Regions from separate parts of the Homo sapiens genome. Here all the other regions are linked to region 1. Evidence: fine-mapped expression QTL. A gene starts in region 1. Each other region holds a variant in brackets. All regions are shown on one strand. Distances are between the middles of the regions.

Region 1 (5,224 bases):
TACAACCTGGACACAGTCCTCCCCATTTTACCTTCAGGGAAACTGAGGTTGAAAAGGCAGTCTGTGTAAAGTTTCATAATTAGCATTAAAAAGAGCTGGAATTTGAACCTAGACCTGATTCCACCTAGTCAACTGACTTGCTGCATCAGAGATAAGCAAGAGAAAACAAAAGGAACCCCTCCCCCTTGTCCCTACCTCCAAGACTGTCCTATTCAATGGAACCTGCACACTTAGATTTCACCACAGCCAGGAGAACATCTTGAATGCCCTGCCAGGAGGGAAAGCCAGCCAGTAGTAACCAAAGCTCTGTCTTCTCCAACAACTAGAGGAGCACTTAAGTGGGTAATTTCCTGTCCATCCCCATTCCTAGCTACAGGCAGAAGTTGCATAATCAACAGTCACTATAAATCACAACTACTTTTCATAACTTCTCTCTTCATATTCTCTTTCGGTTTCACCACAAGCTAACATATTTCCCAAGCCTAAGTTTTTATCACAGAGTAGTCTAGTTTCAAGATCAATAAGGCTATTCTTCATACTCATTTCACGCTTAATACAATTCCATGCCTTAGTAAATTCCCTAACCCAAGTGCTCAGAATTAGCGATGGGTTCCACAAAACACATTTGAGAAATGTATTTGTCAACCTGCTACCTTGGAGAGCAACAGAGAGATTTGATGGCTAGCCATCTGAACTTTTACTTGCTGGATTTTAATACTGGTTCTGACACTCACTGCTTCATGTCAGGCAAGTTTCTGAACTTTTCTGTAACAAGAAGGGTAAGTGTCCTCACGCATACTCTGCAACTCTAAGTTGGCTTCTGGAAAGTGTTTCTAAGTGCTATTGAAATCCAAGTTTACAACTCTTACTTGGAAGCAGGAGCTAAACTTGAGTGCCTCTTTAATCCCAATGTTTCACAAACGACATCTTTTTACCTCCCAAGCCTCTCAAGCTCTTGTTTGGAGCATGCTTCTAACTTTTTTCTCATTTCCACAAAAATAAAGATTTAACAGAGTGTTCATGCGACTCTTCCATTTTCATTACCATAAGCAAACTTTTCTAGTTTCATTCAGCAGATGTCTCAAGGCTGCTGCAGCGCATCTCATACATATTTTGTAAATGAGAAGCCTAACCACACGGGGGACTGCAAGGCTGGGCAAGGGTCACACTGCACGGGCATCACCTGGACATGAGATGCAATGTTTGAATAATTATTAGTTTCACCCTTAAGGCCCTTCTCCTTTCAAACTTCCCTAGTACAATTCTCAAAATGCTGAAATAAACACATTCCACAAACTTTCTTGTAAGAGGGTTTAAAGTGTCCTAGGAAAGTTGTTTTACAGAAAAGCCTATGCTGTCAACTTTGCTTTTTAATGCCCTTAAACAATTCTATTAGTCACAGAGGAAAAAGTGAACATTTGTTAGTAATTAGAGATAAAACATCTCCAGTTCTGGGGCAGAGGAAGGGAGAGGCCACAAGAGGACCTGGCTGGGAGGGGAGATAGAGTCGAAAGCCACACACCCAAATTGGACCGCTTAAGAGTTGCACTTTCCAAAGTCAACTTCTAAGTCTACAAGGACAGCAACAATGTTTCAGTGGATTCTGAAGTTACATGTATCAACAATTTCCCCGGAAAGCTAACCCTCCACCGGGAACTCCAGGTGAATGAATGAGTGAGGGAATTCGCCAGATTGAGTTACAAAGCCTTTCCAACGATTATCAAGAGCAGGTGCTCGGTTACAACACAGAGGTATCCTCCTTCACAGCCTTTGGACCTTGCTGCGTGGAGATTTTCACAGATAAGAGGGGGGAAATAGAGAGACAGGCCTTCCTCCCCGGCCATCCACACCTTAGGTGGCCACACCATGAGCGGCCCCTCCCTCTAAGAACCTCACGCGACTTCTGTGGGGGCCGCAGGCCTCAAGCGGCCAGGCTGCAACCTCTCCGGACCTGCCAACTTTCAGGGGCGCCCCAAACATGCCCAAACATGGGGAGGTGCTTCCGGGGCTTTCCCACTCCCCTTCCCCACAGTTGAAGGACCATTTTCAGGGGCTCTCCGTAAACCCGGGGAGGGGGCCGCCCTGTAATCTCAGCTGTTCCGACCCCCAGGTGAGGAGGGGACACCTGACCCCCGGCGCCCTGCCACCCCGCGCGCACCCCGCCCCCGCGCCTCCCTGGATCGCCATAGCAACCGTCCCCCTCCCCGCGTGCCGGCGTCACGCGGGGCGCCCCTCTGGTCTCGGCAACAAGTCCCCCGCGCGGCCCGCGGCCTGCAGCCCTGGCCCGGCCTCGCCGCCCCGCGCCCGGCCCGGCTCCGCCCGGCCCGGCCGCACTCACTTGATCCTGGAGCCCATGGTCCCCAGGCCTCCTCATGGGCCCGCGGGCCCCGCTCGGCGCTGCGCTGCCCGCCCGCCCGCGGCCGACCGGCCTCCCTCTGGCGCTCTCCCCGCCCCTTCCTCCCTTCCCTCAGGCTGGGGCCCGCCCGCTCGAGGCTCGCTCCCTCGCCGCCGCCGCCGCCTCCAGGGGTTAATGTACTCGCTCCAGCCCGGCGAACGCCATGGTCGCCGGCGCGCGTGCCCGGCGCGCGCCGCCCCCTCCGCCTCTCACCACCGCCCCTCCCGCCCGCGCTGCCGCCGCCGCTGCCCGCTGGGGCTGCTGGGAAGTGTAGTCCGCTCGCGGGGGCGGGGCCGTGGCCGGTGGGGGCGGGGCGGGAGCGCGGTCACCCGCACGTCTCCCAGGGCGCGGGCCCCGGAGGACTCTGGCGTTCCGTTGCAGGCCCTTACACATCTGCACCCCACTGCGCCCCGCTGGAAACCTCCACTCACAGCCGCCCTGAAGAGACCCTAATCCTCTCATGGAGACCCCAAGCCCTCCCGATGAAACCGCCACCAATCCTCCCATTGGAGGCCTCCCACCCAGCCTCTCTAACGGAGAGCTAATCCCCCGCCCAGGCCTCCATGAAAACACGTTTTCCCTTTAACATCCCGCACCTTCCAGTAAGTTCCGTGCAGAACCTCTTCTCCATCACACCGTCCACTTCCCCATCTGAAGGCCTTTCCTCTTCCTTTCCCCTTAGAGCTTGAAGGAGACCCCACATACCTACAGGAAAGCCACCTGGGGGCTTCGTGGACCCACGTGGTGGCTCAGCTCTGCCCTCCCGCTGAGGACCTCTGCCTCCCTTTATCAGCCGTTTTGGGAACTCCAACATCGAAGCCTCCTGTTAACACAACAGTCCCTGATAGAGATTAACTCAATGCAAATGAAAGGATTTGAGAGCCGAGATCACCAGCCTGCTACCTACCCCTGCTCCCCCTTGGGATTCACTTCCATGAACACCTCAATTTCATCCCCTCTAGGGCCAGAGGGATCATAAAGGAAGCAATAATCACAGCTACCATTAGCCACCCTTTAATGAGCGGGTGAGTGCCCTTTCTGCATCAGACACAGTATTTCCGTACATCATTAGTGCCAATCCTCACAATAATCCTGTGTTCATCTCCCTAATTTACAAAGAGGAAACTGAGCCACATTCCCAAGGTCACATAACTAGCAACGAGTGAAGAAGCCAAGATTAGTGTCCAGACTGAATCATTCCAGACACCTGTGACATAGTCATGCTTTAAGGTGGCACCTTTGGCCACAAGTCCAAAGACATTTTTAATATTAGGCTTTTTTTCCTTTTTTTTTTTTTTTTTCCAATTTTCTGTCCCGAAATGCCATTCATCACTTCTGCCATTTTAGTTCTTATAAATGCATGGAGTGCCTCCCCACCCTACCCCCACCCCATAGCCTCTACGTAACTGGTCCTGCGTCCTAGCTCCCGGCCAGGATGGGAGGAAAGAAAGCCAGAAGATAAGTCGTAGAAGACTTCTTCTGTTGGAGTCACCTTCTGAATAAAGATAGTTTCTCCCTTTTGCCTCTGCCTTTAGGTTGTTGAAGTCAAAGGGTAAACTTTTTAAAATGAAAACCAAAAAAAAAGTGAAAATGTCCAAACTGTCATTTTGAATTTAAAGTCTTATGCACCCAGACACCAATACCGACTTGTAAACACCCCCAGGAGCAAAGCTCTGCTAGACAGGCAGGAGCTCTGTGGTGTTTATTCACCTATGAAACTTCTCCAAGGAACAGTTGCTATCAAGATCTTCCCTGGAATGGGAGCCAGTTCAAAAGCTCTGAGCAGGAGACTATAAATAAAACAAAGTTATTGGTGGAGGGCAAAGCTGGCTGCTTTTCAAAGGAGGTTGTAGCCATCCTGGCCACAAATATGTCTGGGTGCCTGCTGGGTGGGGTGTGTGTGTGTGTGTGTGTGTGTGTGTGTGTGTGTGTGTGTGTTGGAGAGGGAGGTAGAAGGTGGGGATTATGTGTCTGCTCAGGTGGCCTCAGAGACAGCAGGGTGGTCTGAGGAGAGAGCACTGGACTGGGAGTTAGGAACGTGGCTTCTAATTCTGGCTTCAGCATTGACTGGCAGATTTTATGCAAATGATTAGACAAGTGTATGTTTTAGTTTCCTCCCCCGTAAAATGGGCAGAGAGAGTGATGAGAAGCTTCCATCATAAGAGCGAGTGTAACATAGGAGCAAAGAGCACAGGCTCTAGAACCAGACTGCCAGGGTTTAAATCTCAGCTCTACCTCTTACTAAATATATGGCCTTGGGTGAATTATTCCTTCTCTGTGTGTCTCAGGTTCTCTGTCTGTAAAATGGAAATGGTGATAATAATAGACCTATTTTAGTGAGTTGACACGAGGATTAAGTGAGTTAGTGACATTTATAAAGTATTTAAACAGTGATTATCACATATTAAGTACTCAAAAATTAAAAGCAACTATTATATACAAAACACTTAGCACCGTTTGGCTTTTATTATTAAAATTAATAAGGCAACCAGTGGCTGGGCATGGTGGCTCACACCTGTAATCCCAGCACTTTGGGAGGCCAAGGCGAGTGGATCACTTGAGGCCAGGAGTTCAAGACCAGCCTGACCACCAACATGGTGAAAACCCATCTCTACTAAAAAATAGAAAAAATTTAGCCGGGTGTGGTGGCAGGCGCCTGTGGTCCCAGCTACTCAAGAGGCTGAGGCAGGAGAATCGCTTGAACCCAGAAGGCAGAAGTTGTAGTGAGCCGAGATCACGCCACTGCACTCCAGCCTGGGCAACAGAGCAAGACTGTCTCAAAGGAAAAACAAAGGCCGGGCATGGTGGCTCATGCCTGTAATCCCAGGA
Region 2 (5,224 bases), 300 kb before region 1:
TGCCTTCAAGCTCCTTGGACAATCTGGCTACTTGGGTGGACCTTTCCAGTGAGATGATTGCAAAATGGAATGGAGATCCCAGCAAAAGTATGACTGACCTGGACTCAATCACTCCGAACCAGTGGTCAGTGTCCCGTGTCATCTGTCCTTAAGCAACAGGGCTATGACCCTCAAATGGCTTCCCTTCTCCTGAAGCTCTCAATATCCGGCACGCAGTTAGTGCCTTTCCCTGTCTGTGTACCATGCTCCCTTACGGACTTCTGTTGACTTGAACTGTTTGGAGACAATGTCTTTAACTGCATTACACTAGAGAAAGAAATTATTCATGAGGAAAAGGGATCCAAATCGGTCACAAAGACAGTCTGTTTTGGTAATCTATTGAAGACAGATAGTGAGGACGATGATGTGTCTGCGGAAACATTTTCTGAGCTACCATGAGCCAGCTTTTCTACATGGGGTCCTTTCATATGTTATCTTGTTTCATCTTTGTATGATTATGTATTGAACAACTTCCTTTTACAGATGAGTAAACAAAGTCTTAAAGCCAAGTGACTTGCCCAAGATGGTAGGGCTGTCGCCAAAACCTTTGTTTCTTCCTTCTACTAAAGTCTGTTTCACTGAACAGTGAAATTCTCCTCAAAGAACTTCAGACAGTTTAGCGCTGCCTGGCTTGTGCTCCCAAACCACAGTGAGCACAAGTCTTAAGGAATGTGCCAGGGCATGGCTGAAACTTGAAGACCTTGGAGATCTCAATTGTTTTTGTCCCCAGTTTACAATTTGTCTTAGGAAAAAACAAACAAACAAACACGCAACCTTTTGGTGCATTGCTTCCCCCAAACTGAGAAATGTGAAAAGTTACTACCTATTCTCTTGTACTCTTCAGAGTGTCATGACATATAAGAAAACTGGAAATGAAAGGGCCGTGCAATCAGGTGGTCTTAAATCCATGCCACTTAGAAGTTAGTATTTCTATTATTATTATTATTGAGACAGAGTCTCACTCTGTTGCCCGGGATGGAGTGCAGTGGCACAATTATAGCTCACTATAGCCTCAACCTCTCTGGCTCAAATGATCCTACCAACTCAGCCTCCTGAGTAGCTGGGACTACAGATATGTGCCACCATGACTGGCTTTTTTTTTTTTTTTTTTTTTTGTACAGATGGATTCTCACTATTTTGTCCAGGCTGGATGAAGTTAATATTTTTAATGTAGAGTCACCAACTGCATTAACAAGTGACACACCTAACACGCCCAGTCAGATCAGGGCAAAGGAGAAGCAGAGGACAGGGCCAGCCACCTTACCAGCAGTAGTCCAGCAGATGCGGCGGCAGCACGGGGATGTACACGTGCTGCCAGTACATGGGGTAGAGCATCGCCGCAGACCCGTGGATGCAGGCAGTCAGCTGGAACAGAGCAAAGCAGAGATCAATGAACAAATCCAAGGGAGGAGACACCGCCATTTGATTTCAGCAATACAATTCTATAATTCTTCAATATGTTTACATGATAAGCTGAAAAACCTGGAGAAATCATTCTAAGTTAACTCAATCACCCTAATTCAAATTTAGTAAGAGCTTTCTTTTCAAAAAATCTTTTTTTCTGATGATAAAGCTAATATACGAAATAGAAAATTTTTAAAATGGTGAAAGGGATTAAAATAAATGCCACACCATCAGAAGATTTAACATTGTAGGTTATTACACACACAAGCACATATATTCCCCTTTTAAATACAATTAGGATGACTATACAGTATTCTTCTGTGTTTCTTAAAAGTGAACATTATTTGATGCCATTTTCCTTTAAATATTCTTAGAAAAAGATATCTCTTAATGATGCTTTAAAGGCACAAATCCAGAATATTCTTTAAATATTCTTAGAAAAAATATCTTTTAATGATACTCGATGAATTTCCCATGCTATTAATATATTTAGCTACTCTACTACCATTAAGTAATATCATCATACAGGTCAATAATTTGTATCTATAGTTCCTAAATGTAGAATTCAGAGACAAAGGTTATAAACATTTGAAGGCACTTAATAAATACATATCTCATAA[G/A]TATGTTAGTATAATGAATAGATGAAGGATGGAGGCTCTTTACACCCCCGACCCCCAGCCATACACCACGATTCTGGCCTCCCTGCCCCTCACCAGCACTACTCCTTGTAGTCAAGTTAGTAGCTTTAAAATTGTACCTATTTTACTTTTATTTTTATTCTGATCAGGACTAAGGTTGAACATTTTGTCATATGTTTCTTCACTATATTTATATAATAGACAAATGGTCTATTCATATTCTTAGCCCACTTTAAAAATGAGTATTAGTAATTTTTACTGGTTTATAAGCAATCACTGATGAAATGCAAAGAATACCCAGCCTTTGTAATGTTTTGAAAATAATTTATCCTTAATTTTCTTTGAATTTCTGGGCAAAGAGAAGGTCTAAATAATTACGTAGACAAATATTTTCTTCCATGATGGTTTCTACTGCTTTTATCCCAAGAAAGTCCTCCAAATTTTCCCCTAGCATTTAACTCTTCAGTCCATCTGGAATTACTTTAGGTTTAAGGACTGAGGTGAGAATTTATTTTTTCCACATAGGTAATCAATTGCTCTGGCACTGTTTACTGACTAATCCTTCCTCTCCACAGTCTTTTGACTTGCCCCTATTTTGTATTCCTTTTTTTTCTTGAGAGCTAGAGACATCATACAATCAGTATTTGATGCAATTAAAAATTTAGGAAACAAAGATACTACAAAGGGATACAATTGCTACAAAATTCAATATAGTGAAAAGAAAGGGAAAAAAAACAACTTTTGGAGATATAGGTATGAAGTGACAAAAGCCAACAACACATATTTCTTTCTGTCTTTTTTTCTTTAATGTTTCTTTGGTTTCAGGGAAGCCTGTTCCCATGAGGACTTTGCTTCTTTTGGAAGCTGTTAACTGGCCTTTGCTGACAGAAGAACATTTACGTGGCGAAAGAGTGACGTGCCAAGGCCCAGTTAAAAGAATCCCAGAGGTTAGTGTAACATGAACAGCTTTAAATTGGATATTCTGCTGATGTTTCACAGTTGTGAGAGCTGTGTGTTAAAGCCAGGGCTGCTACTCCCCACCCCCACCTGCCCTGACTCTTTCCTCCAGACCCTGTTCTTGAGCCAGGTCCATGCCATGAACTGGAACTGATTCAGCAGGCACCCAAGAACAGTTCCCAGTGACCCCGTCAAGGCTCGCAGGTTTAACCCATCCCTTCACATTCTATTTCCATAGGTACCCATATAAAGGAGGGTGATATAGATATATATATCTCACATACAAAAATACACATATATAAAACTAATCCCTTCAGGGCTTCTTAGAGATGAAAAGTCCTTGCTGGTGTTGAGTGAGTGGAGAATGAACCAACTCTGACCTGATTCCACCCTGAAGTCAGGCTGGAGGGTTCCACTGGCCCTGGGTCTCAGCTCTTTCTGCTCATCTTTAACTAGCTGCCAGAGCGCTCCTCCTCAAGTGCAGGTTCCGGCCCATCACTTCCTACTCAGAAGTCTTTGGGGACAAGCCTGGCCCGGATGGCTCCACCAGCCCACGGTCTAGCTTTACAGCAGCCATCTGTAGCCACACTCTGTACCATCTTCTCCAAGTCTGTCCTTGGAATACATCACTTAGATAGAGTCATGTACTCCTTTTCCTCCCATCCCTTTCCACCCGTCCCCCAAACTGGCCTGGATTTGTGCCTCTAGCAAACTCCTCCCTCAGGTCTCTGTGTAAGTACTTCCTCTTCAAAGTCTTCCCTGGTTCCCTGTGCATAGGCACCTATTATAATAATAATAATATTATTATTATTATTGAGACAGGGTCTCACTCTGTCACCCAGGCTGGAGTGCAGTGGCACGATCTCGGCTCACTACAACGTCTGCCTCCCAGGTTCAAGCAATTCTCCTGCCTCAGCCTTCTGAGTAGCTGTGACTACAGGTGTGTGCCACCATGCCCGGCTAATTTTTGTATATTTTGTAGAGACGGGGTTTCGCCATGTTGGCCAGGCTGGTCTCAAACTCCTGACCTCAAGTGACCCACCCACCTCGGCCTCCCAAAGTCTTGGGATTACAGGCGTGAGCCACTGCACCCAGCCCATAGGCACCCATTATTAACTGGACCATAACTGGCTGCATGTTTGTTTCCTGACTGTAAAGTACAGGAAGATCCTGTCCTCACCTCCATGTTCTCAGTGGCCCAGAACACACAACACACACACGTGCACTAGTTAATGGGATGTGTCCTGAATAAATAAAATATGATTTTTACTTAGAATATACTCACAGTACAAAGACAGTTTAGTAACTTGGCTTTTAACAGAAGTGTATCAACATTCCCATGAGTCTCACAGAGTAAGGTACATGACTCAAAGTCTAAAACAGTTTGGGTGCGGTGGCTCACGCCTGTGATCCCAGCTCTTTGGGAGGCTGAGGTGGGCGGATCACTTGAGATCAGGAGTTCAAGACCAGCCTGGCCAACATGGCAAAACCCCATCTCTACTAAAAATACAGAAAAATAGCCAGGCATGGTGGCACATGCCTGTAGTCCCAGCTACTCGGGAGGCTGAGGCAGGAGAATTGCTTGAACCCAGGAGGCAGAGGTTGCAGTGGGCTGAGATCACACCACTACACTCCAGCCTAGGCAACAGAGCAAGACTCTGTCCCCCCAAAAAAGAAAGAAAGGAAAAAATGTCTAAAACAAAAACAGCAAGCTTAGACACACAAGCATGGCACTTTTGGAAAACCAAGTCATTCATTCATCCATTCGCCCATTCATTCAATCATATGCCTACTCTCTAACTCCACAACATATAAATAAATAAATAAAAGCACTTCAAAATCTACAAGGTCCCATACAAATGAAGGTAACATCATCACATGAATTAATTTGTGATTCTCTTTGAAAAAGTCATTTAATAGAATGAACCTGGTTAAGACAGAACTTGATTATGTGACTCTTTTTAGGTTAAACTGGTTTGGGTCAAAAGCCTATTTAAACATAAAGTAGCAGAGATCTCATCTTCAGATAATGTTCTTTTCATGTCTTTTTAACCTCAAAAGCAAACCCACCAACCTCAATGCCAAGATTTTAAAATTACTTATCCTTCACAAAAAAACAAAAAATCAAGCTTTTAAGGTGTTTGCTCATTTCATTAGTGGGTTTTCTAAGGGCCAAATTTCTGCAA
Region 3 (5,224 bases), 510 kb before region 1:
GAGTGGGAGTGACACTTCAGATCTCAAATCTGCCTTAGAATTTGTTTTCTGAACCTGCCCCACTACTCCTGGAGGGCAGGGCCTGTGTCCCAGTTGTCCCTGGGTCCCTGGTGCTCTGCATGGAACCTGTCGGGGCAGCCTGAGGGGAAAGCGGGTCCAGGGACTTGGTGGAGGGTTCCCTGGCGGCACATGGAGAACACGATGGGATAGAATGACACCGTGGCTTCCCAGATCCTATGCCATTAGCTGGGCGTGAGGGCTGACCCATGCTTGGTGACCCTTCAGCTGACAGCTACCCGGGAGTTGGGGGTGCTGCCTAGGGATGGGCAAGGCCACCATGTTTTTTCCCCTTCCTGGCTTACAGGAAGTGTGTGGGGGAAAGGGGAACAGCCCCCCCACCCCTCAATTCACACCATTCATCAAGAGGAAGAGGTGATCAGGGAGAGGGGAGCCCACCCCCTCCACCGGTGCACAGGCTGCTACCCTGTCTAGACACCCAGCTCTCCTACACCACTCCCCACAATACTGCTTCTCTTATGCTTGGCCTTTCTACTTCGGGGGAACCATCTTCTCCAGCCCCACTGTCTTCACTGCTTGTCACCTCTGGCTTGGGCTATTTCCATTCCTGCTGGGTGGCAGTGCACCAGAGCGCTCGGGAGGCAGCCTCTAGGGGTCAGACAGTTTTGGAGAGAACCCCAGTTCTCCCATTTACTCCCTGGGTTACTCCAGGCCCACGATTTGACCATTCCAAGCCTTACTGTCCTCATCTGTGAAGTACAGGTAACAGCACTGCCTACCCGAGTGTCCTGTTAGGAAGATTCAACGAGATGATGGACGTCAGGTTCTTTGCACAGTGCCACCAACAGACATTAGCAACCATTACCATCAGCAGGTTTCCCTGCCTCCAGCCTCTCCCCCTCCCAGTCCATCGCCTACATTTGTTTCCAGAGAGGACTTAAAAAAATGTCCACCCAGTCTTGGCACTTGGCAGATGAAATCATCTCAGTGGAAGGCCGGCATCTCACAGGGTGTCTGCTGAGAAACACCATCCTGGGAGACGCATTGTGTGAAGGGAAAAAAGGAGGTTCCCCAGCCAGGCAAATCTGAGAAATGCTGTCTTCTGTCTTGCTCCTTTTGGGGATTCACAACGCCTGTTAGCATAGCAAAGGCTGGTGAGTCTTGCAAGAAAAAAACCCACCCAAACCAGGCAAAAACCTATTAACTCTTTTTTAAAAAGTCCTATTTCCCAAGTTTATTTGAACATAGACTTGCTTTCCCTATACCACCCATGAATATCCCCTGGAAAATGCTGTCTGAAGTGTTCAAAGCCCTCCAGATTCAGGGCCCCGCCATCCACCTCCGCAATCTCATCTCTGGTAAAACCCCGCCTCACATCCACAGCACACCGGCTGTCGTTATCAGCTCACTCACTTCTCTGTTTACCATAGGGTCTAGTAGAGTACTTGATACCTAATAGGTGCTCAGCAAATTACTTTTGGCTTAAACTTCCTGGCACATGTAAAAACACACCAAATGTCAATTCTCCAGATTCTTCAATTAACTCATTTTCTTTTGCTTGTCCTCGGGAAGTGCTGGCTGTTTTGCAACTGAATTGATAAATGGTGGGAAGAAAGCAGCCTCTTGACCACACCCATTCTAAAAGTTAGCAGAGTGAGCCAGCGGGATATAAAGATGCCAAGAAAGAGTAACGTGGTACAGATGTCCTGGCGCACCCAGTCAGATAAAACCCAACAACGGCAACCAAGAACAGGAAGCCACATTGCCCCTTCTGACACTCGGGGAGTTTTCCCTGCGGGTTGTCGGCACGAGGGGATCCTGTCACCAGAGGAAACACACAGGGACGGGGGCTGCACTCACCGACCCTGGGCTTGTTATGATGCTGGAGCATATGATGGGGACACCTCCTGTGGGGTGGCCGCCAGGAAGAGAAAGGTGAACTCCCAGGGGGTGCGCATTGAAGACCCTCCACCCTGGGGCTGGGGAGAGGAAGAAGGGGAGGGCTGCACTAATTATCAGGATGCCCTGCCAGGAGTGTGCAGGCCCTGGGGACCAGAGCTGAGGCTGGGGACAGGTGAGCAGCTGGATTGTCACCAGCGGATTAGACAGTAATCCCGTGGGAAGC[A/G]GTCTCAGATTTCGGACACTAGAACATCTGATTGTGTGCAGGGCCCTCCTGCTCCCACCGCAGGGTCTCCAGGCCTAGCTGGTTTGCTGAGTGACTTTGGCAAGCAAGTGACTTCCCTGGGCCTCTGTGTCCTCATCTGTGAGGCCAGTCACGAGGGCCCTGCTGCAGGGATGCGGGGCATCTGATGGCACTTCACGCAGGGCCAGGGGCACAGTGGACACGCTGCTGGGGAGGCCTCTGCTTCCTAGACAGGGCGTGGTGGGGCCATCGGCCATGGTGGTTGCAGTTTCCCAAATAAGCTGGGGTGTCCCCAGCTGGGGACACAGATGGGGAAGAGTAGTCTGGAGACCATTAAACACTGTAGGAGGTGAGTAGTAGTGATTTGGGTGGGAAGAGGGGGTAAGGGGATGAGCTAGGAAAGGATCAACTCAGAAAAGCATGCTCTCTTCCAGAGAGTGGCCCCGGTGCTCTAGAAGCTGAAGCCAGCACTAGCTGAATGTAGGGACTACAACAGTGTGGTTGGTGTGAGGCCCGAGAGGACGGCAGAGCTGGCCAGGACTCAGTGAAAGTTATTCTGAACCTGGAGTGGTTCCTCTCCCATCTGACTCAGCTCTGGTTGTCTGCATCCCCAGCCCACAGCCCAGGGCTGGGCCCCTGAGCCTGCTCCTCTTTCACGCTGGTGCTCCTGCCCTTGCTAAGTGTCCTAGTGGCCATGGAAAAGGGAACAGATTGGAGGGAGGTAAAGCGAGCTGCTCAACACCCCCAGCTGGTAATGGGCAGAGCTGGGAGTGTTGGTTGTCATCGGGAAGGCCTCTTGACCGCTGACCGCTTGAGTGCTCTTTCCACCGCTGAAGGAAAGGAAGGTAAAACTGGAAGAGCTTTAAAGTAGATGCAGCAGAGAATCGAAGCAGTCTGGGCATCTTTGCATTGAGGTCATGTTATATGTGATCCTCTGTCCCCTGGCCGGGTTGAAATGTGGCTACACAGACTGCTGCTTCTTAAGTCAGTTCAAAAAGACTGGGCCTTTGGCGATCTTTTGCTAAGGAGAGTTCAATTCGACAGTTCCTCCAGCACTTCCCGAGCTGGGCCAGGGCAGGAGGGGAGAGAGGGCCGGCGAAGCGGGGAGAAGGCCGGAGTTTTCTTCGATGGTCAACGCAAAGTGCCTGCTTTCCTGAAAAACACATCTGGAGGGGAAGCAGATGGACTGTCACAGAGTGGAAGGATTCCTCCTGTGTGTCTTTATGGAACAACTAAGTATTTGGGGGCCAGGACCAGGGGGATTCAGAGAATAAGACACAGTCCTTGTCCTTGAGGACTGCAGAGTCTGGTGGGATTTGACCTACACCATGGGAAAATAACTTCTTAAAGTGAAAGAAATATTGGTGGGGTAAACCCCAAGAAATAGACTTCGGGTTAGAAACCCATGGGTTCACGAGTTGGTTCTGTCATTTTCTAGTTGACTTCAGTATTGGTTCTGCCACTTAGGCGAGTTATTTAATCTCTCTTAAGTCTCAGTGAACTCTTCTGTAAAATGGCAAAACTCCCAGGTTACAAGCATCGGTGTGAGGATGAGAGTACAGTTACAGCCGCACGAGGTTCTGGTTTGATATCCTGAAGATGAAATGGGACCACTCCATCTTCCATCTCCCCATGGTACCCACAGGTCTTTCCAGAAAAGTCCTATGGACGTGAGGACCCTGGTTTTCCAAAGCTGTGTGCTATCAGCAAGGTTCTGTTGAAGGACACTGGATTTTAATAATAATCTCTTCTATTTATATGATGTGTTTTCCTTTCAAAGCATTTTAACTTCTGTTCTTTCTTTTGAACCTCACAGTCCCTGGTGAGGCAAGTTAGAGAAGGATTATTTCCCTGTTACAGAGACAGGAAACAGGAGGCCCAGAGAGGTTAAGGGACTAGTATGAGGTCACACAGCTAGTAGCGAAAACTAAAACAAGCAGGTATTCTTAGCCCATTGTGCTATCCTTGTCAACTAAAATTTCCAAAGTCACCTGGAATCCTTTCTGACACGGTTCTTCTAATCCTTGTCCCTTCTGAAGTTAGAATCTGTTGTTAGAGATCTGTGCCTCAGAGAAAAGGCTGATGAGAGAGTAACTGTCACCTTCTCCTTCTTTCCTTATTTGAGCATCTTTTTGTGGTGCTTTCCAAAGGAGGCACCTGATTCATTTGTCCATTCATTCAACAAACAGTGCGTGGCATCCCAGGCACAGGGGCACATGTCTCACCAAGACTCTGGTAGAGGGCGCTGTCATGCATGGGGTACACAGGAAGGTCTCTGCCATAGATTGGGGGGGGGGCAGTGGTAGGGAGTGCAGGGACAGGGGACCCACAGTGGTCCAATCAGACAAGAGTGAGGCTGAATATGAGGACAGGGCAGGCCAGGACCTGGGAGGGGCTGGGGGAGGTCAGATAAAAAGAGGGCCTTGAATGTCAGGCTGAGAATTTGCGGATTTTCTTCTGAGCTCAGTGGGAGGGATATAATCAGAGACACAATAAGAGGAACCTTGACGTCCTTGGTATAGAAAATGCATTGGAGGAGGATGGGGTATGCTCCTAGGAACAGACACTCCCCTCCAATCACAGGAGCCTGCCCAGGCCTCCATATTGCCAACCCACCGGCCCTGGCCACACCACTGCTGGGAGATGTGAACACAAGAGAGGGTAAGACCGAAGGCATGATTGACACAGAAGTCCCTGAGAAGAGGGGACCTCTTTGGCCTTTGTTGGTCTCTGCCTGGCCCTCGGCATCTCTATCTGTCAGCTGTGTGGGCCAGGTGAGTATGCTCATTGGATATGAAACCGGCATTTATGAGGACAGCATCTGATTTGCAGTTCATTTGTTGATGCAGCAAAACACATTGTTTCCAAAAGGTCAGGAGGGGAAGGCGCGTTGGAATAGCAACTTAATTACCTGGGTGGCATGGATGAGTGGGCACCCCGCACAGGGCTGCAGGGTGGAAAACGCTCGACGGCCAGGTGGTGACTTGGGGGCAGAGAGCGCAGTGTGTAGGGGAGGAGAGGTGGTGTCCCTGCTGCCTGGGAGCCAGCCTGCCTGTGCTGTGG

What was found. PIP is the estimated chance that this variant, and not a neighbour inherited with it, causes the effect.
Region 2: its variant is the best candidate, but not a certain one, in a credible set for the expression of DENND1A in testis (GTEx, PIP 0.56).
Region 3: its variant is the best candidate, but not a certain one, in a credible set for the expression of DENND1A in testis (GTEx, PIP 0.70).

Annotation. Positions count from the first base shown.
Region 1 is chr9:123,927,551-123,932,774 of GRCh38, forward strand. It overlaps DENND1A (DENN domain containing 1A), which reads right to left and starts at 2,576. Exons shown (of 24, transcript NM_001352964.2): 1 at 2,339-2,576. The coding sequence starts at 2,355. RefSeq lists enhancers at 333-382, 1,433-1,512, 1,448-2,133, 1,763-1,962 and a silencer at 2,313-2,802.
Region 2 is chr9:123,629,073-123,634,296 of GRCh38, forward strand. It overlaps DENND1A (DENN domain containing 1A), which reads right to left. Exons shown (of 24, transcript NM_001352964.2): 10 at 1,304-1,404. Among named protein-coding and RNA genes, the nearest start is that of MIR7150, 150 kb to the left of the region's middle. The variant G/A (reference allele first, on the strand shown) is at 2,064.
Region 3 is chr9:123,413,438-123,418,661 of GRCh38, forward strand. The region is part of intron 19 of DENND1A (DENN domain containing 1A); the gene reads right to left. Among named protein-coding and RNA genes, the nearest start is that of MIR601, 13 kb to the left of the region's middle. The variant A/G (reference allele first, on the strand shown) is at 2,144.